Linked DNA regions of Homo sapiens: all the other regions are linked to region 1. Evidence: fine-mapped expression QTL. A gene starts in region 1. Each other region holds a variant in brackets. All regions are shown on one strand. Distances are from middle to middle.

Evidence for each region. PIP is the estimated chance that this variant, and not a neighbour inherited with it, causes the effect. A credible set is the group of variants that fine-mapping cannot tell apart.
Region 2: its variant is the best candidate, but not a certain one, in a credible set for the expression of RERE in T cells (TOPMed, PIP 0.81).
Region 3: its variant is the best candidate, but not a certain one, in a credible set for the expression of RERE in visceral fat (GTEx, PIP 0.67).

What each region holds. Positions count from the first base shown.
Region 1 is chr1:8,814,824-8,819,823 of GRCh38, reverse strand. RERE (arginine-glutamic acid dipeptide repeats) reads left to right here and starts at 2,184. Exons shown (of 23, transcript NM_001042681.2): 1 at 2,184-2,664. RefSeq lists silencers at 1,647-1,876, 1,977-2,276, 2,527-2,586 and an enhancer at 1,940-2,234.
Region 2 is chr1:8,431,503-8,442,501 of GRCh38, reverse strand. The region is part of intron 11 of RERE (arginine-glutamic acid dipeptide repeats); the gene reads left to right. It overlaps RERE-AS1 (RERE antisense RNA 1), which reads right to left. Exons shown (of 4, transcript NR_125999.1): 4 at 7,486-7,869. Among named protein-coding and RNA genes, the nearest start is that of RERE-AS1, 12 kb to the right of the region's middle. The variant A/T (reference allele first, on the strand shown) is at 5,255.
Region 3 is chr1:8,381,874-8,392,872 of GRCh38, reverse strand. The region is part of intron 12 of RERE (arginine-glutamic acid dipeptide repeats); the gene reads left to right. Among named protein-coding and RNA genes, the nearest start is that of RERE-AS1, 37 kb to the left of the region's middle. The variant T/C (reference allele first, on the strand shown) is at 4,529.

The sequences.
Region 1 (5,000 bases):
GCTGAATCTTTATTAGAAATAATGCTCCTGTAAGTTTCGAGACCAGCCTGGGCAACATAGTGAACCTCCATCTCTACTAAAATTACAAAAGTTAGTTGGGTGTGGCGGCACACACCTGTAATTTCAGCTACTCAGGAGGCTGAGGCAGGAGAATCGCTTCAACCGAGGAGGTGGAGGTTGCAGTGAGCTGAGATCGTGCCACTGCACTCCAGCCTGGGCAACAGAGCGAGACTCTGTCTCAAAAAAAAAAAAAAGAAAAAAAAGAAAGAATGCTCCTGTAGATAGAGATTTTGATGGAAAGTGAAGCCATCTAACTGATATACTTTATCCCTCATCATTTCCAAACAGGAAGTCAGATAGTCCTATCCATATCTAGAATGTTGGAAGCAGTTTATTGAATTTATTAGGTTTTAAAATTCAGTTCTCACATTATCAGATATATAAAGAGATATTAACTAGTTTCCCCATTTCATAACTCCAGCAAAGAGGATTTTTCTTGCTGAAAGTTACTCAGAAATGTGATGGCAAGGATCTATGGCTTTTTTTTTTTTTTTTAAGATCTCTTGGGTCATGGTCCAATAGTATCTGTTAGTCCAAATTATTCTTTAAAGAATAATTGAATGTGGGCCGGGTGCGGTGGCTCACGCCTGTAATTCCAGCACTTTGGGAGGCTGAGGCGGGCGGATCACCTGAGGTCAGGAGTTCGAGACCAGCCTGACCAACATGGAGAAACCCCATCTCTACTAAAAATACAAAATTAGCTGGGTGTGGTGGCGCATGCCTGTAATCTCAGCTACTCGGGAAGCTGAGGCAGGAGAATCGCTTGAACTGAGGAGGCGGAGGTGGCGGTGAGCCGAGATCGCGCCATTGCACTCCAGCCTGGGCAACAAGAGTGAAACTCCCTCTCAGAAAAAAAAAAAAAATGAATAATTCAATGTGGAAATTATAATCTGAATAGATTTTCCAAGGAGAAAATTATCACTTCTTTTGAAACAGATGAGTGAATTATTTTGTGCTACGTTTTCTACCCCTTATTTTATACGGACCTTAACTCCTTCGGGAAGAGTGTATGGTATAAGGACACCAATAAGCATTTACAGAATATTAACAAACCAACAATAGGTTGATGATTCACCCTGGATTCGTGCCAGGCTCTGTGAAAGAACTCAATAAACATGATGTGCATTTCAAAAACTGCTAATCATAATTGAAATTTCCAAACCCCTCAATCCCATAAATTATATGAACTAGAATATGATCATTTGGCCTGCCCCTACTCCCTTTACAGCATGATAGACCCTGTGATTATCAGGCTTTCGGGAAGTGGGACACAATACTTCATTCTTCAAAGAAAAAGAGGTGATGTTTGGTCTTTTCCTCTTTTTAGATTTTTTTTCACACGTACCTTATAGAGTTGTACACTGCTCTTTCTAAAATCCCTTCTGTACCTGTACAGTCTCTCCTTTATGCCTTCATGACACTTTTTATTCTTTTCAAATAAGCAGTGCGACTTATCACTTTTATTTTTCTTTCTGTAATTCATCTTTTGTCATGTACACTATTTGAAAAATATTACAAGCCGCTCATCAGAATTTCGAAAGAGTCCATATGAGAATGGTTTACACCCACTCTGTAGCCCGCAGCAACATGGATCCGCGTCCTAATGACTGAAAAGGCCAATTAAGACCCGGGTAACAGCAAGATCAACCGGACTTCCCCCCACCCCACCCGGGACCTGCCCGCGCCGCCAGCCCGGCCCAGCCCGGGGGGCGCGGGGGGCGGTACTGGAGCGCGGCGGGCGGCGGAGGAGGGCCGGCCTCGCACTCTCACAAAGACGCGCCCGCGGCGGGAGCCCAGCCCACCGCCTCTGGCCGCCGCCTGCAGCGCGAGCCCTCGAGCCCCGGGCCGCGGCGTTGTCAAGGCTCGGCCTCTCTCCGCCTTCTTCTCTGCTCATTTTATTAAAAAGATTAAAAAAAAAAAAAAAAAAAAAAAAAAAAGGAAAAAGAGATCCCGCCTCCTCCGCCTCCCATTGGCCGGGCCCCCGGCCGCGTCACACCGCGCTGTACCAATGGAGGGGCGCGATACTGCGAGGTGGGCCGGGCCCGAGCGGGGAGTGGGCGGCGGGTCGGTGCAGCAGCTCCGCCGCGGCTCCGCCACCATCGCGGAGGTGCCGCTGTTCCCACAGACGCTCGCGAGCAACCCTCCGCGCTCCGGAGCCTCCTCAGCCTCCCGCACACCCCGAGACGCTCGCCCCGCTGGGCCTCGGTCCCCGCCTCCTCCCCCGTCCTTTTCCCCTCTCTCGCTCCCCACATTGTCTCTGCCTCATTTTCTCTCCTAGTTGAGGATTAAAAAAAAAAAAAAATCACCATCATCCTCAGGGAGCCCCCTCGCCCTCGGAAAACAAAACCAGACATGATCCTGGGCTCCTGCTTCTGAAAGATCTGCCCGACCGAGGAGGAGGGAGCCTAGGTTCAAGTCGCAGGAAAGGTCACGGCAGGGAAGCCCCCTCAGCCCCTCCGCGTCGCCTCCCCGCGGGCCGCCCCTCTCGGCCCTGCGCCCCGCGGCCCCGCAGCCTCCGCGCGGCCTCCCGCCCCATCCCCGCCACTTTCCCCGGAGCTGGGCCGCGAACACCTCACTATTGATGGTGTAGCGCTTTAGGGGAAGGTAAGTGTCCAACTTGCCCGCGCCGGGTCGTGTGCTTTCTTTTTTGGCCCCTCGTCCTGGTGGTCAGAGAGGGTCGGCCGTGAAAGCAGTCACTCGCCCGGGGGGAGGCAGGAAGAAAAGGCTGGGGTCGAAGCCGAAGTCGAGGGGAGTCGGGCGAGGGCAGGGCACTTCTTTGGTCCTGTCCGGGCCAGGTGACCGTTCCTGCGTGCCTTCTGACCCCTGCTCTCTCTTGGCCTCTTATTCATGCTCTTGTTCTACTTGTTTGAGGTTAAACTATTTCATGTGACTACATTATTGGCTGAAACTGGAAGGGAAGGAAGTCAAGGACTGAAACTGTAAATTTCTTGAATGTTTGTGGATTTCGGGGTGCTGGGGGGAGGACTTTATTATTAAAGTATCATTTTCTCATTGGGGGAAGATTTCCTCTTTGTGCTCCCAATCTCTAGTTCTCAGCTGTATGTGATTAGAAAATTATGAAACCCAAAGTCACTTGCAGCAGAATAGAATTCTTACTATCCTGTTTTAGTTCTGCTCTCTGAAGGAGGGTGGCTTCTATTTATTACTAATTTTTAAGATGATGGAAAGATTCGTAGTTTTACATACACGTGTGTATGTGTGTCTGCTAGGAGGGGGGAAAAGTGTTGCAGGCTTCCTTTGAAACTGGTTGCTTGAGAAGTTGTTGAAAGGAAAACAGAATGATTCATTGTTGAATTGTCATTTTCCTCTGTCTCTTTTCCAAGGTTTGCTTACAATTTTTCTGGATTACAGACTTCAAACATTGATTTAAGTAAAATGGGTCCTTGAGAAACTGGGTGCTTTAAATGTTTCAGTATCTGTTGCTTTTTTAAGGTACATTTAGAAAGTAGTTTTGTATGAATCGTGAAATAGCCTTCTTCACAGCGAATTTTTAAACGCAAAAAAAGATAACTAGTAAGAGGGTGAACTTGGTGAATTACAAAATAGACATTTTAATATAGCAGGAATTGATGCATCTAAGATTTGAAACAGTTTTCATAATTGCTTTCCATTTAAAGAGAGACCTTTTTGTCTAGTGTACACTGGTCTTTTTAGTCTCAGTCTGTTGGGGGAGGGGAGAGAAGCTGGATCTGTACAATAATAAAATCATCTTTGGGTTGATATTTTGTTCCATGGATTTGCTTGCTGAGTTAATACTACTGTAAATTATCAACCAGTTTTGATTTTGATGGCCTGGGATGGGTGGAAAGCTGGCTTCCAGCTCTCCCTGTTGTTGTTGAGGTCGAAGGGAAAAGAGGCAGAGGCAGACAGACACACATATACACACACACACACACACATACACACACACACAATACCAAGCTGAGGGCTCATTGTTCTTCCATACACACATTCATTCTCTCTCTCCCATATTTGGGACTAGGTTTGCACAGACAAACACAGCTCTTTTTGGGAGAGAAGAGAGAAGATGGGGGAAGGGAGGGTGCTTTTCTGTTACAGCTTTCTTCCACCCATCTCATGCCTGGCCGTTTTTGCAACCTTGTGAGGCAGAAGAGTGCATTGGAAACTAAAGGACACTCAAAAACATGTTCAGAGACTTCTCTTCTCTCTGCCTCCCTTTATTCCTTTTGCAGCCGTGGTTTCTGCTGCTCTTTCTTTTTTGTATATGTAAAGATAAAATCCCTCTTTATATGTTGTGGCCTTACGTTCAGCTCTCATTGCTTTTGTATTTCTCATTGACCCTGATTTTGTTGGGGACAGTGATTTGTTCACTTGAGTCTTAGTAGTGAATGTGAGCAGAGTCTTTCTAGATAGAAATAGATTTTATTGATTAATATTATAAAGGTTGTATTGAGGTTAATATTTAGCAAGATGATGTTTGCATGTTTTTAGTGGTGTGATGGTTTGATGGTCAGGTTTGCTGGCAATTGAGCTGTCAATGTTGTTTTTGTAAATAAGGGTTATAAGAAAAGATCTGGTTTTCTGTTTAGGGGGCTCCTTTGAATACTGGACAGGGAATAGGCTAGTCCACCTGGGATAAACCCAGCTGTGGCCCAAGGATGGAGGTTGGTGTGAATACATGTGGGTTGCAGAATAGCACCTTCTACTGGTTAATTGTTTGGAAAGATCCAGACGAAGAGGATGGGGGAGGGGATTAATGGCTGAGGCTTAATGATTTTCTTTTAAGCGCAGTTGTTGTGCCTTTCTGCAAATGCCACTTCCCCGAGCTGCTAATACAGATGTCCTTTGACAGGCACGGTTGCATTGAGGCATTATTATGTTACTGGTTGTGCTTCGACATTAATTTGTTCTGTTACCAGAAGTATTTACACTTTGTGACTTCCCAGGACTCCTTTGAA
Region 2 (10,999 bases), 380 kb after region 1:
CAGGGAGCTTTTACTTATGGTAGAAAACGAAGTAGGAGCAGGCACATCACATGATGAAAGGAGGAGCAAGAACTATCATCTATTTTTAAAATAAGCTTTTTTTTTTTTTTTTTTTAAGATGGAGTCTTGCTCTGTCACTTGGGCTGGACTGCAGTGGCGGCACCATCTTGGTCCACTGTGCAACGTCTGCTTCCCAGGTTCCAGCAATTCTGCTTCAGCCTCCTGAGTAGCTGGGATTACAGGCGTGCGCCACTATGCCTGGCTAATTTTTGTATGTTTAGTAGAGACAGGATTTCGCCATGGTGGCCAGGCTGGTCTTGAACTCCTGACCTCAGGTAATCTGCCCACCTAAGCCTCCCAAAGTGATGGGATTACAGGTGTGAGCCACCATGCCCGACAAGTTCATTTTTTAAAAGCAGTCCAATGTTGCATCTTATCCTTTTCCCCCTTTAATTTTTATTTCCATTCTACTTCCCCAGGGACTTTATACTAAGATGATACATTTTATGTTTGAAAGTCCAGTGTCCGATTGACCTTTAGTACTTCCCTGCAACAAAAAGTGTGTGTATTGAAATCGGGCATATGGTTATTTCCTTTAATAATAAAGCTCTTAAGTATAGAAGAAATGTTTTTTCAAATTATAATTATTAGAGCACAGTTGATGAAAACAACGAAATAATGTAAATGTTGATATAATTTTCATTTTTGCTTAACATTTATTGGAAATAAATTGTATGGTTTTTTTAAACACGTAAGTGCCCAGAAACCTTGTTTATGTGAGTAAGTAGATGGGAATGATAGTTTTGTTACAGTGTCACTCAGTTATTTGAATTCTTTCCATAATAATGCCAAAAGTATAATTTGTCGTCAGATATGACTTTCCGCAATCTATCAGATGACACTTCCACTAGGACCTCCTTGTGTTTTGTTGAAAGCAGAGAATCAGAAAATGTCTGACTTGTGGAGTCTTTCTCATCCTGACCTCAGAGCTAGGCACTGTGTCAGCACCAGTGTCAATGTTTTAAATTGTCCCCTTGTTCAGTGCCCCTGGGGCAGTGCTGCCTGGTAGCCTTCCAGATGGGAGCGGGGGAGAGGAGGCTGCCTTTGTGAAGTGAGAGGGGGGCAGTGGTGGGGATAGAAGAAGAGAGGCTGCATCCCCTCACAGGAGCGTGTGCCTTCTCAGGCTGATGGATTGTTGGAAAGAGAACATAGGAAAAAAATGTCTTTTGTGTCCATACATCCCATTTTGCGGACTATGGTCTTACACATCTTATATGCCAGGCCCACTTCTGGGCACTGGGAGAGTCAAGGAAACCCACGCCCCCATAGGAGCTGGGCTAGTGGTGTGACGAGGGCTAGCTTAGGAGCTTGGGGCAGGAAACCGGGCTGCATATTGCACTGGAAATTGAATGATGAAAAACTTGCTGTCCTTGCCCTCCAAGGGTTTATCATCTGAGGTCACATAATAAAGCAAAACAGCCCCCCCACCCCCCCGAAAAACAAAAAACCTGCATGAGCTAAAGAAAACCCTCTGCTAGCTCTTGTTATTTAGTGTGTTCATAGAGCAGTTATATTACTCTGGCATACTTTCTATTTTTTTTTTTTGAGATGGAGTCTCCCTCTGTCACCGAGGCTGGAGTGCAGTGGCATGGTCTTGGTTCACTGCAACTTCCGCCTCCTGGGTTCAAGCGATTCTCCTGCCTCAGCCTCCCCAAGTAGGTGGGACTACAGGCATGTACCACCATGCCCAGCTAATTTTTTTTTTTTTTTGTATTTTTAGTAGAGACGAGGTTTCACCATGTTGGCCAGGCTAGTCTCAAACTCGACGTTAGGTGATCCGCCAGCCTCGGCCTCCCAAAGTGCTGGGATTACAGACAGGAGCCACCGTGCCCAGCCTTTTTTTTTTTTTTTTTAGGTGGAGTCTCGCTCTGTCGCCAGGCTGGAGTTCAGTGGCATGATCTCGGCTTACTGCGACCTCTGACTCCCTGGTTCAAGTGATTCTCCTGCCTCAGCCTCCTGAGTAGCTGGGATTACAGGCATGCGCCACCACGCCCAGCTAATTGTTTGTATTTTTAGTAGAGACAGGGTTTCACCATATTGGCCAGGATGGTCTCGATCTCCTAACCTCATGTCCGCCTGCCTCGGCCTCCCAAAGTGCTAGGATTACAGGCATGAGCCGTGCCTGGCCATAAACCATTTTTAGAAGGAGTCAGGCTTTACCAGACTGCCAAAGGGTCCATGGCACAGAAGAGATAAAGAACTGTGCACTCAGTGCTGGCCCCTTCCACATACTACAAATAGTTTCCAGAGTCCAAGATGACAGTTTCAATACAGTGGTTTCATGGAAGGATGCTGCATAGAGTTGGTGTTGGGCACAATGTTACTGGCTTGGTACATGCACCATAGATATTTTGTTTTTGTTTGTTTGAGAGGGAGTTTCACTCTTGTTGCCCAGGCTGGAGTGTAATGGCGCGATCTCAGCTCACTGCAACCTCTGCCTCCCGGGTTGAAGCAATTCTCCTGCCTCAGCCTCCCCAGTAGCTGGGATTACAGGCGTTTGCCACCATGCCCAGCTAATTTTTTGTATTTTTAGTGTAGACGGGGTTTCACTGTGTTGGCCAGGCTGGTCTCAAACTTTTGACCTCAGGTGATCCACCCACCTCGGCCTCCCAAAGTGCTGGGATTACAGGCGTGAGCCACTGTGCCCAGCTCACACCATAGGTATTTTAAATGTTGCATTAGACTCTCAGACCTGTTATTGTCCTGCATTATCCTAAGGATGCTACTATTTCCTGTAATCCCATTTACAGTCAAGTATCAGGGAATCCACCTGGAACCGCCAGGGGGTGTGGTTCCCAAGGGTCATTGACCTTTCTTGCTCCTCCTTTCCATCTGAGGGAGAAAACTTTCATTGCCTCCAGATTGTGTTTCAAAACAATGGAGAATGTTCTTGGTTTTATTACTAAGTAGTCTTGACCTCTAGCTTCGTAGTTATTGATTGGTTTGTTTCTTTAACATCTTGACATTCATTATTTTCTTCCTGGTGTTTTCTTAGGCAGTTGATTCCTCCACACACCAGCTCTCCTGACTTGAAGCTACGGAGATGCATTTAGATCAGGTTTCTTGCATGCTGCTGGCTTTATCTCATTTACAGTATCGCATTTCTGTTGCCATACACTGTAGGATCTGGGCCTCCCCACAGCTTTAGAACAATTAGTAATTGAGCAGGAAGTGTGTTTTTATTACAGTGGCCTTTTGATTTTGATTTTACAATCATGTAGTGTTTAGCAGAGAGCAGAGGTGGGCAAGTGGCTCTCTCAAACACATTTTTGACAGAGAGAAGTCTGTTGTTTCAGCCACTTGGCTATCTGTCAGCGGTTCTCAGACTTCCCCCTTGTGTGGGTTGCCTGGCAACCTGGGGCTGGAGCAATCAAACCGTGGCCAGCGCTTCTCCAGCCCAGACTGGGAGACGATTTACTGGTGGAACTGTAAGTACAGTAAACCCAAGCCTCAGAAATGGACCTTTTTTCTTTTTTAAACCAAGAGTTTATAGAAACCATATCAAGGCAAAAAGAGAGAGAGAGGGAGAATATCAATTAGAGAGTTTTGTTGTAAACATTTTAAATAATAAAATTAGGGCCTGTAATGAGCTTATCATCTATCCAGATATGTATAAGTTAATATTTTTACTTAGTTGGATTATTACCTTTTTTTTTCTTTAACTGTTTTACTGGAACATTCAACATTTTAAAAGTTAGTACTTTTAAACGCTACATTTGAGTACTTGTGATGCTGTCTTTCCACGAAAACCTCAGGCGCAGAGAGTGTTCATGGCTAGCCGGAAGTAAACTGTGAGGCCTTGCTAGAATCAGGCCTTTGAATCAGAGCCCAGCTCTCCTGATGCCTGTGTTCCTGGTTTACTGTAGTGAGCACAAAATGCTGATTGCTCTTTTCCCTATTTTTCAAAATTAGCTGAAAAATCCAGAGACCCATCTATATGGGAAATCCCTATACCTTCTGTTCCGTTTTGCTGTGAACCTGAAATTGCTCTAACAAATAAAGTTTATGAAAACATTTTGAAAATGCAAAGATTCTGCCTTACTATATGCTGTTGTAACAGATGTTTTAGTAGGTCTCCCTCTTCGTATGTATATACATCTTTTTAACTGAAAATTATCCTATATTGATTTTTTTCCTACAGGAGTGAGATCTGGCTGGGCACAGTGGCTCATGCCATAATCCCAACTCTTTGGGAGGCTGAGGCAGCAGGATTGCTTGAAATCAAGAGTTCAAGACCAAGCCTGGGCAACATAGTGAGAACCCCGTCTCTACAAAAAAATATTTTTAAAATTAGCTGGGCATGGTAACTGACACATACCTGTAGTCTGACCTACTTGGGAGGCCGAGCCAGGAGGATCATTTGAGCCCGGAAGCTCCACGTTACAGTGAACTGTGATCATACCACTGTAGCCTAGGTGGCAGAGCAAGACCCTGTCTCTAAAAATAATAATAAATAATAATAAAAGTGAAATCTAACAGCACTTGTTGAGGTTTCTCCTTCATAGCATCTCAAATATCACAAACGAGGATGAAAAGGACTCTATTTCGGGGGACATACTGCATGGGGGTGGGGGGAGCAGAAGTCTCAGCCTGGGTTAGCAGTAATCTGAGCATTTCTTTTTGTAAAATTTTAGAGAAATACTTTGGAACTCAAACTCCCCTCTGCATGCAGCCCATTGTATCCAGCTGTGTATGTAAATGAGCTATTAGTATGTTTGTATTCCTTATAAATATACAGATCTAATCTGTTTGTGTGTGTAATTTACACACAGCTGTGTTCATGCTCCCGTATTACCAATATTGTCAGCAAGAGTGAGGTATCATGGGAGCGCTATTGTTCCAAACAAAAGCCAGCAGCGTAGCCTTGTGGTGGGGCCCATTACCAGCCCCTGATCTTGGGACCCTCCCTTGGGGGACTCTCTTGAAAGTCACAGCCATTCTGCATGGGGATAGCCATCCTGCATGGGGTAGGCGGGAGACCAGAGTGCCTGTAATAGAAAAAAAAAACAATGATCACCTGTTAGACAGGGATCTGCATTATGACTGAGGTTTGGCTTTTGTCATTGAAATGCTTCCTCCACCCCCACCCTGGACTACATTTCCTAAAGGGGTCATTGATTTTCCTTTCTTCTTTGAGATCATTCTTTAAATGAACCGAGTCAAATGAGGAACCCAGTCCCATGTTGTATTGTCA[A/T]GAAGGGGAAACAAAATCCAGGAGCCCCTCCTGTATCAGGAGCTGACGGAAGGCCCTGGTGCTGGTCGAGGTCTTCAGTTTCCCTTGTTTGGGAAGTGGGGCAGATCTTAAGAACTTTGGCATTTGGTCGAATTCTTCTAGAAGACAAGTTTTATGTAATTTGAAATAACGGCCCTATGTGGTTTTATTTTAGGAATTTATGATATCGTTGCCCATGATTCTAACAGTATAGTTATTTTGCCTCCCTAATAGAAAACTTGGAGTGCTTTGGATGTTTCAGTATTTTACAAAAAAAGAAGTTAGGATTATTCTAGACCTGTGCTTTCCAATGTGGTAACCACTGGTCTCTTGTGGCTGTTGAGCATCTGCAATGTGCTGGCCCAAGTGTAGATGCACGGTCAGTGTAAAATACACACTGATTTCAAAGACTGAGCAGGAAGAAAAAGAATGTAAAATATTTCATTACTAACTTTTATATTGATTACATGTTGAAATGATAATATTTTTGATCTTTTTAGTTAAATAAAACATTTAAATTAATTTTACCTGTTTCTTTTTAAAGTATGGTTACTAGAAGAGTAAAACTTACATTTTTGGCTTATATTTCTATCGGGCAACCACTGGTCTAGATTCCTTTAATTACAGTTTTTGCAAAATCCTCTCACGGAGGATTTCTACTTTTTTGTTCCCTTGTAACTTCTAGACAATCCACATTTCTTTTTTTAGCTTATTTCTCTTTCCTCCTGTGTTGAGATCTACTTTGCCAAGGAAAGGTGAACATTTTAATGACATAACTTAGGAGCCACTTTACAGGGGCATTTATGTAGCGACTGTAGGGTGATATTGTAGGGAGAGAAGGAGCCTCCCATGCCCATTTGGATTCTGTTATGAGTGTTGGGTTATTTTATTTATTTTTTATTTATTTATTTGAGATTGAGTCTCGCTCTGTCGCCCAGGTTGGAGTGCAGTGGCACAATCTCAGCTCATTGCAACCTCTGTCTCCCGGGTTCAAGCAATTCTCCTGCCTCAGCCTCCCAAGGAGCTGAGATCACAGGCACACGCCACCACGCCTGGCTAATTTTTGTATTTTTAGTAGAGTTGGGGTTTCACCATGTTGACCAGGCTGGTCTCAAACTCCTGACCTCGTGATCTGCCTGCCTCAGCCTCCCAAAGTGCTGGGATTACAGGCATGAGCCAGTGCACCTGGCCGTGTTGGGTTATTTTTAATTTGGGCGTAGCTGTGTGGCCATAATTGGCAAGAGGCATTTGGCTGGCACAATCTCTACATCTGTTAATGCTGCTGCTTAACTAGCCAGTTCTCATTTGACTTGAAAGTGCATTGATGCATGCTTTCTGATATTCACCCAGTGGCAGTACTTTTTGTTGGGCCTGCAATAATGAAAGGACTTCAGTGTACTCAGTGTAATTATCTAGACCCAGAGGGGCACTGACAGAGATGTATATATAGGATAGCTCAATGGGCTGTGCTAGTGGGTGCAGTTGCTGTTTAAACCACAACATGAGGTCATTTTCCCATTGGGCACATGGTCTTTGAATGAAAAATGGAGTAACTTTTATTTGATATTTGAGACCTCCTGGGAAGGGTTTTTGGCATGCAGGTGTGTTGACAAAGGAAATCACTGGCTCTACTCTGGATGCTGAGCTGGCATCACGGAGGGGATGGTGTAGTTCCTCTAGTGGGTTTGAACGAAGAACATCTAATGGTTTTGTCAGTAGTAGTTAGAGAGTTAGAAACTTAACAGTGCAGTGAATATATATTAAGAGACGTTGAGTCAAACTGGAGAACAGGTGATGAGAGGTCAAATAGCCTTGGAGGAACACTAAGCCCAATCATCTCCAGATACATTCTTGTACTGAACCAGTGGTTGTCAAGCACCTGCTATATGTTGTCAAGTGCTGTTCTAGGTGCTGGGGATATAATAGTGAACAAAACAAAGGCCCTTTCCTCATATATTCAGTAACGTAGCCTATATCGTGTTATCTAATCATATCACATATGGTGATAAGAGCTAGGCCTTAAAATGAAGGCAGAGTAAGGTTATAGAGAGGCATGCAAATTGGGGAAGCATCATTGGAAGATTGCTTATTTGTTTGCTTAAATTAATAGTGACTAACAGGTTAAAGTTTTTAGTGGTTTTAGTAATGAATCTTGTATTAGTTGCCTATCGCTATGTAACACGTTACCCCTGATAATAAAAATTAGCCCAATGTAAAGCAATGATGATCATTTATTATCTTTCACAGTTTCTGTGGGACCAGAATTTAGGAATGGCTCCACCGTGCAGGTCTGGCTTAGGCTTTCACGAGGTTGCAGTCAAGTGATAGGAGGTATTGGAATCATCTTGAAGGTTTCTTCACTTATGAGTCTGGGCTAGGAAGACTCAAATGGCTGGGGACTAGAATAGCTAGGGTTTCTGTAGCACCTCTCCATCCCTGATGGTCTCTCCAGCGTGGTGACTTTAGGCAAGCCGGACTGTTTAATCTGGCAGCTCAGGGCTTCAAAGACACGTGTCCAGAGAGGGAGAGCCCAGCAGAAGCTGTGTTGCTTTGTATGATGTAGTCTTAGAAGTCACCTGGTATCATTCTGTCACATTCTGTTGGTCAAGACAGTTACAAAGGTCTACCCAGGCTCAGGAGGAGAGAACAGAGAGACCCACCTGTCAATGAAGGAGTGTCATTATCACATTGTTAGAGCATGTGGGATGGAATCTGTATTGGAGTGGCCACCTCTAGAAAATATAGTTTGTCACAAATGTAAAGATTTTGTGGGTATGTGTGGTTTGATTTGTTGGTTTAATTTCAGTTAAATGATTTATGGTCCTCATCAGTAATATGAGGGTTTCAACCAGCGTAGTTCTCTAAAGCTTCTTTCTAGCTTTCTCATTCTCTGATTCCACCGATAGCGCAGGTGTGGCAGGGTGTGTTGAGCTGGCAGCTGCTCAGCTTCTGTAGACATTTCTGAGCATATCATCAGAAGAGTCAGCTGGGACATTGAGGGGCTGTTGGACTCTTGCTGGCCTCACACACTGAAAGACCTGGCGCTTCAGTCACCCTTTGTGTTATGTTTCTATAGCTAATCTTAACTGGGGGTTGCTAGTGGTGGGGTGATGGAATAAAACAATGATTTAAACCAGGAGCTGTCCATTATCATGATACTCATGAACTGAGGAGGGTAGAACAGCCAGGCAGGATTATATTAGATCTACCTTCCCAAGTGCTCCTTCTCATTCTCTTTGGCCTTTGGAAGATTAGGAAAAAGAGGAAAAGAAAGGAAACAGAAAAGAGAACTCTTTGGTATTACTCCTCTGTGTCAGCTAAACAGCTGCCATATTTGACCCTAGAGAGGACTTCTTTTAGAAATGAATGGGGCCGGGCGCGGTGGCTCACGCCTGTAATCCCAGCACTTTGGGAGGCCGAGGCGGGTGGATCATGAGGTCAGGAGATCGAGACCATCCTGGCTAACAAGGTGAAACCCCGTCTCTACTAAAAATACAAAAAATTAGCCGGGCGCGGTGGCGGGCGCCTGTAGTCCCAGCTACTCGGGAGGCTGAGGCAGGAGAATGGCGTGAACCCGGGAAGCGGAGCTTGCAGTGAGCCGAGATTGCGCCACTGCAGTCCGCAGTCCGACCTGGGCGACAGAGCGAGACTCCGTCTCAAAAAAAAAAAAAAAAAAGAAATGAATGGACTGTTACTCAGAGGGCTTGGATTTGGGATCCTGTTGTAATTACCATAGAATCTTCTGGGACTAGCCTGGGAAACAGGTCTTTTTTGTGTGTGCTGAAACTAGGATTTATTTCAAAGACACATGTCCAGAGAGGGAGAACCAAGTGGAAGTGGTGTTATTAGATATTAAAGGTATTTAAGACAGTTGACAAAACATAGCATGCAAGACAAGATGTCTTTTTGGAAATAGTTGAGTCCTCCTCTTGTCTCTTTGTAGGACCAAGAGGCTACCCTGCTTTACGACTGTTCCATTGTTAAGAGAACCAGGGACATAGAAATTGAGGCTTTGAAGATGGTGGAGGCCTAGACACCCATCTTGCACCCAGGAACACAGTAGTCCTGAGATAGGGCTAGTTACCAGTACGGGGGATGTAGTTATTTAGTTACTGAACCATGCCAGGTTGTTTGTGGGAAAATTTTCCTCATGGATATCCAGCATACAGCATATAATCTCCGACATGTGCTTTTATTTCAAGAGTTTAAGTTTGGGTATATGTATATGTATATGTGTATATATATGTAAACTTTCCTTTAAAGTATCTTAAGAAGTACCTTAAGAAGTATCACACCCTTTATTCCTCTGAGATGAATAGATATAAAACAGTGTTTTCTGCACTGAGAGTCCAAGTAATCAATCCCATTTTAAAATATGATTTACTTCTCCATTCTTCTTGGAAAAAAAGAAACAAATCTAACATTGATTAGAAATTTTGTTTCCATCCTACCAAACATGTATTATGTTTCAGGGAGAACTCTAGGACCAAAAACAATACCCATGCAGCCACCCAACAGTTATCATATTGCTTGGTTACAGTTTGCCAGGCACTCTGAAGATTACACAAGACATGAAATACTCACCTCTTGCTGGAAAGGAATCCACAATTTGGTGGAAGATCTATAGACCTTTTAATGGCAGAAGTGCTTATTAATTCTAGTCATAAACAGGAATTGTTGTTTTTCAGAGAAGGGAGAGAGAGCAGAGCGGACTCTGTGTAGGGATAGAGTTGAAACTGGAACATGCTTCGCACAGTGCCTCGTGCTGTGCTCCTTGTTCACTCAGTGCCTCGTGCTGTGCTCCTTGTTCACTCAGTGCCTCGTGCTGTGCTCTTTGCACAGTGTGTTCACTAGAATGAGGGCTCAATGAATGTTAGTTGAGTTGATGTGTTTGAATAAGCAGAAGTGAAGAGGGGACATTCTAGATTGGGTAAGAGAGAAAGGCATTGGTAAAAACCCAGGGAAAGGAATCAGGATGGGGTACTGCAGTAACTAACTTCACTACATGGTGGTGTAGGTGATTGGGAACCCAATTGTGGAGGCTGTTAACTAACTAGCAGACCGATAGTTTGGACGTACTAGGAATTGTCACAGGTCTTCAAATAAGAGAACACATTAATATACAGAATGCCCAGAACTGGAATGTTGGGGGGAGGGGTGTGGAGACACACTGAGGCCAGGGAGGAGACCAGTGCAGTCACTGGCATGACGTGGCCCTGTAGTTGGCAGAGCCCTTGCAAAAACCGAGGAGCATGCCGAACAGGAAACTCCATGAAGTGAAGAATGAATCTAGAGGGCATGGTGACTGATGGAAGGAGTGGGAATGGACAGAGAGCACGCCAGGCACTTCTTCTAGAACTCTGCTGCAGCTGACAGAAATAGGGCCACAGGGAGCTAAGAGAGGGCAAGCTGGCTTGGGGAGAGAGAAGCGGGGGAGATTTGAGGTGCTAGGCCCATGAGGTTAATTTTAAACTTTATAAAGTGAAAAAAGTTACAGTAAGCTAAGGTTAATTTATTATTGAAGAAAGGAAACATTTTAAATGTTTAGGTTAATTAAGTAAACAGTGTTTATAAGACTACAGTGGTATACAGCAGAGGTCCCCAACCTTTTTGGAACCAGGGACCAGCTTTGTGGAAGACAGCTTTTCCATGGGCTGAGGGGAAGGATGGTTTCAGGATGATTCAAGCGCATTACATTTATTGTGCACTTTATTTCTATTATTATTA
Region 3 (10,999 bases), 430 kb after region 1:
CACTCTGTATCGCTTGCTTTGGTCAGAGGGCTGCTTCACGAAGAGCTGAAACTTTGCTCGCAAACATCCCTCCAGGGCTGGTAATCTTCCAGACAGGATGGCCCACTTGATAGAAATGTTTTCAGCACAACCTTGCAGCAGATGTTTGCTCTGGTGTGCTGGCGTAACAGATGCTGACCATATCTCTTGAGGGCCTCCACGTCCCTCATAGATGGACTCTACTGCTAGTGTGAGTTATGCGTACTTCAGGGCCATAATTAAAGCTCCTAGATGGAGGGGTGGGGGTAGATACTGGCTGTGTTCAAAGTGGGTGTTTATGGTTGATAGGAAAAGGCAAATGTTTTGTCTTTGCTGAATTTTTAGAAAGCTAGGAATGAAGAATGAGACCCAGGGGAGAGGAAAAAGTTTTGGCTAAGTTTGTTTTTATCTAGATAGATAGATGGATAGACAGAGAGATATATAGATAGAGATATTCATTTTCCAGGTTAGGTAAAAATATAAGCATAAAAGGATTTTTTTAAAAAAGGATTTTGTTAGATTCACCTTTTTTTATTTTTTCAATTGTGTATTTTGTTTATTTCTATTTCTTACAAATGCCCTCTGTGACATTTTTTGGTCTCAAGAATGAGTCATTAACCTGAAACCTCTTGAGCATGTACATGGCTTTTTAGGTTATTTCTTTACAAGGTAAGTCAAGTTGTTATTAGATTTCTTTATACTCATTCATCTTACAGATATTTACTGAAGATCTGTAGAATGCTGAACATTGTGTGAGTTGTGAGAAATGCAGCAATAAACAAAAGACATGTTCCCTGGTTTCTAGAATTTTATTTATTTATTTTTTCTGAGGCAGAGTCTCACTCTGCTGTCCAGGCTGGAGTGCAATAGCGCGATCTTGGCTCACTGCAGCCTCTGCCTCCCAAGTTCAAACGATTCTCATGCCTCATCCTCCCGAGTAGCTGGTATCACAGGCACCTGCTACCATGCCCAGCCAATTTTTATATTATTTAGTAGAGACAGGGTTGGCCAGGCTGGTGTAGGACTCCTGACCTCAGGCGATCCACCTGTCTCGGCCTTCCAAAGTGCTGGAATTACAGGCGTGAGCCACCATGCCCGGCCTCTAGAATTTTAATTCTATGAAGAAGACAGATTAGGTGAATAATTAGATATATAATTATAAATTCTCATAAGTGCAATAATGGAAATCTGCTGAGTATTATGAGAAATCATAACAGGGGGACCTAACTTAAGAAAGGAATATCTGAAGATATTTCAGTTATGACCCCAGAGATGAGGAGGGAAGGATAGAATCAGAAGAGCCCCCCAGGCCAAGGGATCAGCCTGTACAGAGGCCCTGGAGAAGGATAGGCTTGGAACTCAGGGGAAGCTGAAAAAGTAAGTGTAGCTGGAGTGTGTGGAGCAAAAAGGAGAATGGAGAGGGGTGAAGTAACAGTGATGGGGAGAGGTCAGGTCATGGGGACCTTGTGTGCTCCATGGCAGTAATAGGATGTCCTGAGGGCCTCTCAGGTGCCAGGCACTGTTCTCAGTGCTTTACATACATCGGTTCATTGACCACATAGATAGGAGGCTGTGTAACTTACCCAAGTATGTACAACTTGGAAATACCATAGCTGGGATTTACTCTCAGGCAGTCTGGCTTTAAAGTCCATGCTGTTGAACACCTTGCTAGAGTTTTGTGCTGAGAATGTGACAAGTTGATAAGGAATCTCAAACAGGGAAGTAACATCAGTTTTCCTGTTTATTTTGTTATTTTTAAGACACAGTGTGGAATTTGGGTTGTAGTAGGTCAAGGGGAGTGGAAACTGAGCGCCAGGTAGGAGTCAGTGTGATCATGGAAGGTGACCCCGAGATTGGATGAGGGTGGTGGCAGTTGAGGCAGAGAGAAGTAAAGTTTTTTTTGTTTTGTTTTGTTTTTTTGAGATAATATTTTGGAAGGCAGGATTGGTGAGATTTGGTGTTGAATCAGAAGTGGCAAATCAGAGAGGACAGCGTCAGGGAGGACCCCCCGCTGGCACAGAGCCACTGGGTAGGGGAAGTGCTGCTTGTTAAGATGGGGAGGTAAGTTTAGGAGGGAGAAGTGAAGATCAGGAGTTCCCTCTTGTATAGCTGGTTTTGAGATGTATGTTTGTTTTATGGAAGAATGGATTCAAAATGTACATAGTTTTTAACTGGATAAATATGATTTTTTAAAAATAGTTTTAAAATATTTACTAGATAGAAAGGAATTAGTTGGGAGAATTTTGGACTTAGGTTTCTGGGGCTCTGTCTTCACTATTTGTTTGGGTCTCTGAATGAGGCTGATAAATTAGTGCCCCTTCTTCCTTCCCCAAGTTCTGAAGAAAGAGAGATGGGTTCAAAATATTACCTATAGTTATTGATACAGTTCGGACTATGGGACATAGATTAGTGGGCAGGGGAAGAGCCTACCCTGGAGAAGAGGATCAAAAAGAGCAGCTAGCTCCCAAAACTACCAGGGCGCTGAACCATGCATGCCAGGTTTGTTTTTTCCACTCTCCAAATAAGCAGCTTCCCTACCTGGGGTGGGGTGACGACTGGCCAGAAGATGTGCCAAAGGCCTCTCTGTACATGAGTGTAGCTGTCTGGAGTGGGGTCTCTGCTCTTCTGTATGCCGTCGTTCTTGTCAGATGTGTCACAGGATGCCTCTGGGTTCAGATGTGGCGTGGTTGGTTGTGGCACATGGCTCTGCTTCAGGTCACAGGATGACTGTTTCTAGGTCTTGGATTTTAGGTGTCTGGTATTGGTTTTCCTTTTTCTGGTACATGCCCACCTCCTTATGTTAACATCCTCACTGTCTAACTACTCTTGTTCTTAACCCGTGATGTATTTTCACTCCTGCCAGAGAAATTCAGTCTAGTTTGGCTTTGTGTCTTGACAGGTCCACAGAGAGATTGAACAGGATCCTAGGGGAGATACTCTTTGGCCATTGGTGGTTGGAGGTGATGAACTGTTTGCAGAAGTGGATGCGTTTAAGAGACAGGGTCGTCATTGCTGCCCTGATTTCTCCTCACAAATGGAAAACTATTAATGTATACAAAACAACGTGCACTTAGCTGACGGATTGTTTTATTCGCATACTACAGTTGGGGCTTCATTTATAGAGGGAAGTGGTGAGGTTCCCTCCATGCGACCTTCCGTGGTGGCTCCCCGACTTCTCCTCCCAACATGAACCTCAAATTGACTGCAAAGCATGGGTTACCAAAGAGAATTCCACCCCTTCCTCATGGTTTTTTGTTAGCATGTGTGGCGGTAGGGGGGTCTTGCCTAAGACCTTTTTTGTGTTGTTGTAAACAAGAGGCACAGTGACCTTGGCTTTTCGTGCTAGGGTGCGCCTGCTGGGATTCCCTAAAGTAGGGGCATCCACTGAGCCGCACAGCAGCAGAAATCTAGAAGTAAATGGACGGGGTGGCACAGAGGTTTCTGAAATGGCCGTGAATAAAGAACAAGGCGTTGACGTCACACGCCAGTGGATGCTGGGGATGAAGGTTTTAGTACCTCCCGTGTATGTATTTAGTTTTTCAGGTTTTACACAGACATGAGAGTGGGTTGACATGAGTTCACAGACATATTCTTCATACCCCTGAGGCTACTTGTGCTGTAGATTATATTTGGAGACTGTTGACACCTATGGAGTAGTCATTTTCGGCCTTATCTAGAAGCACAGCTCTGCTTATTTTAGACTGATTTTGATAATTTTGAAGATTTCATGTCACCCTTCCCAGCTGACACATGTCTTTCTAAGAAGTGTCATTTCATAAGCACTGTACTTTCCTAAAGATAATACAATACTCAGGAAAACAGTGATCCTAAGAAAGAGAAGGGAGGTCATTTGGGTTTGAAGAGCAGGGACACAGAAGTGTGCTCCCAAGTGGGAGTATCCCTGCAGTGGGTGTGCTGTGGAGCTCGGACAGCACCTTTAGAGTGGGCGGGCAGGTGGCAGTGGGAAAAGTGAGGTCAGGTGGAAGAGAAGTCATTAAACCCCTTACCTAGCTGTCTAATGAGCAAGGAAGCACTTGCATATCATTTCCAAATTATCTGTAGAGAAGAGAAACCTTTCTTTAAATGCAGAATTGGAATATATTTGACAATCTTCTGGTTTAAATTTTTTTTAGTTAAATATTGAAGAGTTACAAAAGAATATAGCATTTGTGTATGGTATAAAAACAGCCACACGGTGAACTGTCGCCACCACGCAGCTTAAGATTGCACAGACTGGGCCGGGCGCGGTGGCTCACGCCTGTAATCCCAGCACTTTGGGAGGCCAAGGCGGGCGGATCATGAGGTCAGGAGATCGAGACCATCCTGGCTAACAAGGTGAAACCCCGTCTCTACTAAAAATACAAAAAATTAGCCGGGCGCGGTGGCGGGCGCCTGTAGTCCCAGCTACTCAGGAGGCTGAGGCAGGAGAATGGCGTGAACCCGGGAAGCGGAGCTTGCAGTGAGCCGAGATTGCGCCACTGCAGTCCGCAGTCCAGCCTGGGCGACAGAG[T/C]GAGACTCCGTCTCAAAAAAAAAAAAAGATTGCACAGACTGTTTCCTCTCCGGTGCAATCCCCTGTCCTTTCCACGCAAAGATAACCACTAGACTGGGTATTCTGCTATAACCCCCCTCCTTTTCCTTATGGCTTGCCTCATATATGTGTATTGCTACACAGTATATTAGTTTTGCATGTCTTTGAACTTCCTATGAATGGAGTCATGGAGGAAAAATGTCCTGCACCTTGCTGTTTTCATTCCCCTTTATCCCGAGAGGCAGCTCTGCATCCTGTGGTACTTCACAGCCTTGTATGAATAGAGCGTCTTTTCCTTCTCTTTTCTGCTGTTGATGGACATTTCAGTTGGTTCCAGTGTTTTGCTGTTGCATACAGTTCTGCTGTAAACTTTCTTGCACACATCAACTGGCACACATGCACACGAATTCTTTAGGGTATAGTTAAGACAATTTTTGAGTTACAGGTATGCGTATCTGCTATTTTACCAAGAAAAGCAGATTGTTGTTTTTCCAGCTGTATGTAAGAATTCCAGTAACTTCACATCCTAGCCAACACTTGATAGAATCAGACCTTAAAATGCTTACCAACATTATAAACTTGAAATGTCTGAGTGATTTTAATTTGTATTTCCCTGGTTTCCAGTCATATTGAGCATCCTTTAATGAGTTTATTGGCTATTTGTGTTTCCTCTTTATGAAGGGCCTATATAAATCTTTTGCTTACTTTTCAATTTGATTGTCTTTTTCTAGATTTGTAAGAGTTCTAGATACTCATCTTAAATAATGTGTGTTGCAAATACCTTCTGGCTTGTGGCTTATCTTTTCACACTTTTTATGATTGGTTAAAGATTAATATGTTGTTAATTTTAACGATTTTATCCTCTCTCCTTAAATGTATCAGCCTTTATACTTTGAGCTTTTATTTGTTAGAAATCTCTCTTGGTCATTTAGGCAGTCTCCTATACTTACTGTTTTCTAAAAGTTTTATAATTTTGCTTTTCGTATTTAAGTTCTTAGTCCGTGGGTTTGGTGATTGTGTAGCATAAAGAAAGAGACCAGATTTACTTGTTTCTGTAATACATCACCAGGTGTCCCAGTGTCATCTCTGGAGAAGTCCAGCCTTTTCTCCACTGATTTGTGTTGCCAGCTATGTCAAAGTGAAATTTCCATAAGAGTGTGAATCTGTTTCTAAGCTGTTTTGTTCTGTTGGTCTCTCTGTCTATTCCAGTGCTTCACTGTCTAGCTTTAGGATAATTGTTGATAGTTGACTTAGCAGGTCCCCTACCTTTTTCTTGTTTTTCAAGAGTGTCTTGATTAGTGGCACTTTATTCTTCTTTAAAATTTTTAAAATCAGCTTGTCTTGTTCCACAAACTAACCAGCTGGGATTTTGAATGAGATAGTGTTGAATCCATTTGAGTACGTTCCCTTTATCCGTCTTTTTTCTATTTGTGAAGTCCTTTCAAGTCATATTTTTATCCTCTTTCCTTTCCTCACACTACTTCTGCACCCAAAGTTGCAGCTTTTCCCCTGAGAGAATATATAGTAGATTTCAAAACCTTTGTCTTCTGTGTTAACTCTTTGAGGTAAACTTTACTTGAAAATCCAACACAAAGAATTTGGGCATTTGAGGAGTTTGTATTTCCCTGGTTACTAATCATATTGGGCATCCTATAATGAGTTTATTGGCTGTTTGTGTTTCTTTTTCATGAAGGGCCTGTGTAAGTCTTTTGCTTATTTTTCAATGGATTGTCCTTTTCTTTTTCATTTGTAAGAGTTCTAGATATTCATCTTAAATAATGTATGTTCAGTTCACTGCCTTCAGAAAGGAAGCTCTCTGGCTGTTTGGGATTCTGTCTTGGCTGGGTTTCAGAGCTCAGGCCCAGGGAGTGGAAACCCTTATTTGTGTGGCTTTACTGTCTTTATGAGACAGGGCCACACAAGCTCATAGGATCTCAGGAATGTTCTCATTATTGATAATGCCCAATGTGGGAAGAATCTCTTGGCTTGGGATGAGAGGGGTTCCTAAGAAGTTCTCTTGGCTCTATTTTATTCTTATGATTTATATAGGAGCAATGGTAATTTTTTAATTTTTTTATTTTTGGTCTCTCTGATTCTAAAGAAAAATTTGGAGGAGAGAATAGTTAACTGTAGTCCTACAAGTTTTCTTAAATATCTTGATATTTTGAACAGTTGGGATATAAGTATTCATGAAATTTATAAAAATTTTTGTCTTCACCTACATGGAAGCTTAGAAACTACTGCTCCTTTGTGGTTCTTTTGACTGCTGTGAACCAAGAAAAAAAAAAAAAAAAAAAAAAAAAATATATATATATATATATATATATATATATTTTTTTTTTTTTTTTTTTTTTTTTTAAGACGGAGTCTTGCTGTGTCACCCAGGGTGGAGTGCAGTGGTGCGATCTCCACTCACTGCAAGCTCCACCTCCCGGGTTCACGCCATTCTCCTGCCTCAGTCTCCCGAGTGGCTGGGACTACAGGCGCCCGCCACCACGTCCAGCTAATTTTTTTTTTTTTGTATTTTTAGTAGAGATGGGGTTTCACCATGTTAGCCAGGATAGTCTCGATCTCCTGACCTAGTGATCCATCCGCCAAAGTGGTGTTTTCTTGTTTGTTTGTTTGTTTGTTTGGTAGAAGGCTTCCCTTCAAGAAATAAAAGCTCTCCGGGTAGCTGGTCAGGCGTTCTGAGGCCACAGTTGGTTGTGTTTTGTTACATTGTTTTGTTTGGTCACCAGGAGCTGGAAGTACATCATTATCTGATACTCTTCAGGGTCCTTTTGGCATCTGGGTAATTCCTGTATTTCCTTTGTGTTAATGTAAGGCAGGATTTAAAACTCCGTGGTAGCCTGCCCCTGCTACCATTCAGTTTTTTGCAGTTGCATCCAGGGTCTCCCTTGGATCAGTTGTGATTTCTGCTTAAGGCACAGAGTCAACTTTCCCTGAGGCCTCTTGAGAGTTCGGAACCCTCTAGCTGCACAAAGCACAAACGGGCAGTCTGAAACTCTTGAGGAAGGAAGCATGGGGCTGTCAGTAGAAGTTAATAATCAAGTTATTTGTTACACTGTGATGGGTGTTGATATTATTAATTCAATTGCCCATTTATATGTGAAACTCATTTTGATTTTAGACAGTGAACATGTTAAATTCTAAGATACAATTAGAATAATTCAAGAGATGTATTTTCCTCGGTGCTTCCCATAAAGAACAGCATAGACCCAAGGCCATGCTTGACTCAGTCTTGCTAGGAATTCCAAGGAAGGAAGATGGAGGACACAGGACCTGTGGCTGGCAGAAATCGCCCTGCAGAGCTGCTTTTAGATGGGCCCAGAAGGAAGGTGCAAGCACGAGAGACTTGTTAGGTGCTGCCTTGAGTTCAATTTTAGATTGTCCTTGAAGTCAATGTGGTTGTTGCATCGGCTGAGAGCTGTGCCCATGACTGGCATGTTGATGGCCAGCTGTTGCCCTCTGCCACTCAGGAACGCTGGTCACATGCCACTGCCATTCCTGCCCACAGCAGGAGACAGAAAGTTTAGCTGGGAGTGAAAAACAAGTAGCCCAACCTCTTTATTAGTAGCCTTCTGGAACAGATGAGTAAGAGTGTACAGAACTGTTAATTGTCTGTAACTAGAGGGAGCAGAGAAAATGCCTTCAAAGCATCTGGTTGTGATGTCACAGCCTTCTGATCCAGATCATATGTGACAAGACTTTTTAAGTGATATTCATCAGTTCAGATATTCATCACTCCTATCTGGAGTTAGCATACAACCGCTCACCTTTGCTGTTACCTTAAGCAGATCTCATTTACCTCTTTATTTGCTGCTGTATGAGAGCACTGTTTAAATGATTGCTTGAGTTCCCAGGAGAGGATCCCTGCTCTTCTTATTAATGCCCCTTTAAGATACAGGTGTTTTAGTACCTCATGGCATCCAGAGAAGCATGTTCCTTTTCTGAGCACGTCAGCACATCTCTTTACCCCTACAGAGGGGACAGATTACAGAACTGACATTGTATCCCACAAGAAAAAACTAGGGCAGCAGGAACAGGATGCGCATGACTCAGGGAGAGACTGGACCTCCGTGCATCCCAGCTTACATGTTCCCAGTCACACAGCCTAGAGGGGTAGAGGGACAGCCACGATGTGGAATAAACAGTAAGACCCCGACCTGAGGAAGCAGTGGACCCAAGGAGGCTTTGGGGTGAGGCGGTTGATTGTACAACCTGTTCCCTATGCTCTTCTCAGCATCAGAAACACAGATTCTTTCAAGCTTAATTCTAAAGAGTCTTTAGACCTTTCTACTACGAGAGTTTGTAATCTAAGCCACTAATTTTCATTCTGGAGTTTGTGACACTCTAGTGAGCCCCACATTATCATAAGTGAATATTTTTAAAATTCGGCAATAGAATTCATTGTAGTTTGGCATACATTTTTATTTTATTTTATTTTATTTTATTTTATTTATTTTTTGAGACAGAGTCTCACTTTGTCACCCAGGCTGGAGTGCAGTGGCGCAATCTCAGCTCACTGCAACCTTCACCTCCCGGGCTCAAGCGATTCTCCTGCCTCAGCCTCCTAAGTAGCTGGGAGTACAGGTGCGTGCCACCACACCCGGCTAATTTTTGTATTTTTAGTAGAGATAAAGTTTCACCGTGTTGGTCAGGCTGGTCTCAAACTCCTGACCTCGTGATCCACCCACCTCAGCCTCCCAAAGTGCTGGGATTACAGGTATGAGCCACCGCACCTGGCCCTTGGGCATAAATTGTAACATAAGTGTATGTTCTTCGACACATTTAAGAGTGGAGTGATGGTGTCATAAAATTAAATAATGGGATGTTCTAAGTCCCTTAAGCTGGACCTTTCCAATCTGTGCATCAAAGCTAATTCTGCATTAAAGTGCAAGGACGGCTCACAAACCCCATAGTTGCCTGATATAGATTGGCAGGTGCATTCTCTTGGTTTCGTTTTTATTCCTGCTGAAATGTTTAATGATCTTGTGTGGCGTCATTCTGTTGCCGATTGTGTAAGAGAGAAGCTGGACCTGGGTGGAGACAGGCTTCTTAGGTGGCCTCAGTGGGCTGTTGGGCATTTATGGTTCTGCTGGTTGCAGCTGAGATCTTCAGACAGAATACTCTTCTCCTTGACCAGCGCTTATCTTTCAGATTGTGAACTAGGCCCAGACACCATTACCATTCACCATCTCTAACATTCTCTTATTCTTTGACTACATAAGGCACTGTCGTTCTAGGGGAAACATGATAGAGGAAGGAAGTTGGTTGCAGAAACCATTCTTTGAAAGACTTTTTTTTTTTTTTTAACTTAGTCAATTAAAATAGTCCTTTAAGGTGAACTTAGTTCTGAGTTTCTGGTCCTTTTCCCAGATGGAAAAGGATTTTCAAGAAAAAATCCTGTCACTTACTGAGCATGTGTGCCGGCTCCTTTTTGGCACTTCCATCCTCACCACAACCCTATAAAGGAGGGAGCTCGTGGCGAGGCAGCCCAGGTTTCTAGATAAGGAGAGTCTCGAGGAGGTTCCTTAACCTTCCTGTGGTGGTTTTTCTCCATTTTTAAAATGAAGAAACAGAGGCCAAGAGAGGTTAGGGAATTTGCTCAAGGTCGTGCAGCCAGTGGCAGCTGTTCTCACTCGGAGTTCTGAGAGAGGTAAGCCTCAGAAGCCGGGCATCCATTGTGTGTAACGTAGTAACGTCTTGCCTGTGCATCTAGAAAGGTACCTGTTATGTTCCGTTCATAGGAGAATTGAGAAAATATTAATAGTCACTTCATTTTAAGAACTCCAGTTGAAAAAGGCTAGACAGTCAATGTTTGTTCATTGTTTTTCTCCATTCTTCCCCAGCATGCGCGCTCTCTCATGCACACGCACGCATGCGCACGTGGCTGAGCCAAAGCCTAAGCTGCGAATTGAGTTTCGTTAATTCATGTGGAGGCAGCTGAGAGTGCCACCTGGTCCTGAAGAAATTGGGATACTTGTGGGCACAAAGGTGGACCTGAGATCACTGGAGCCAAGCTGGTGGAAGTGTTGACCACTGCCGTTGGCAGAGAGCTGTCATTACTGGTGCTTCAGGCCACAGCTCAGCAGGCTGTCCTTGTTCTGTTTTGTTAAGAGCCTAGCAGCATGGCTAGCTTGCAGGCATAATCCCAGAGCCTCTTGCTATCTGCCTGCAGGAAGTCTCTATGTGCTCCAGCACACTGAAGGAATTTGGTGCTCACTTTCTCCTGCTTTTGAGCTTTGGTCCTGTGTTATTACTAATCCTTAGAGGAAGATTTTGACTGTAACCACTTTCCTGAGTGCTCTTAAGGCAGGTCCAGAGGATTCTCACAGCGTGAAATGAGAAAACGCTCAGCCTCAGAAAAATGGAAGTTATTCTTTTAGTGCCAAAGTGTCATTGGACCACAGTGCAGCTTGGTTAATTCAGGTTAAGACTTAGCCCCTGGAA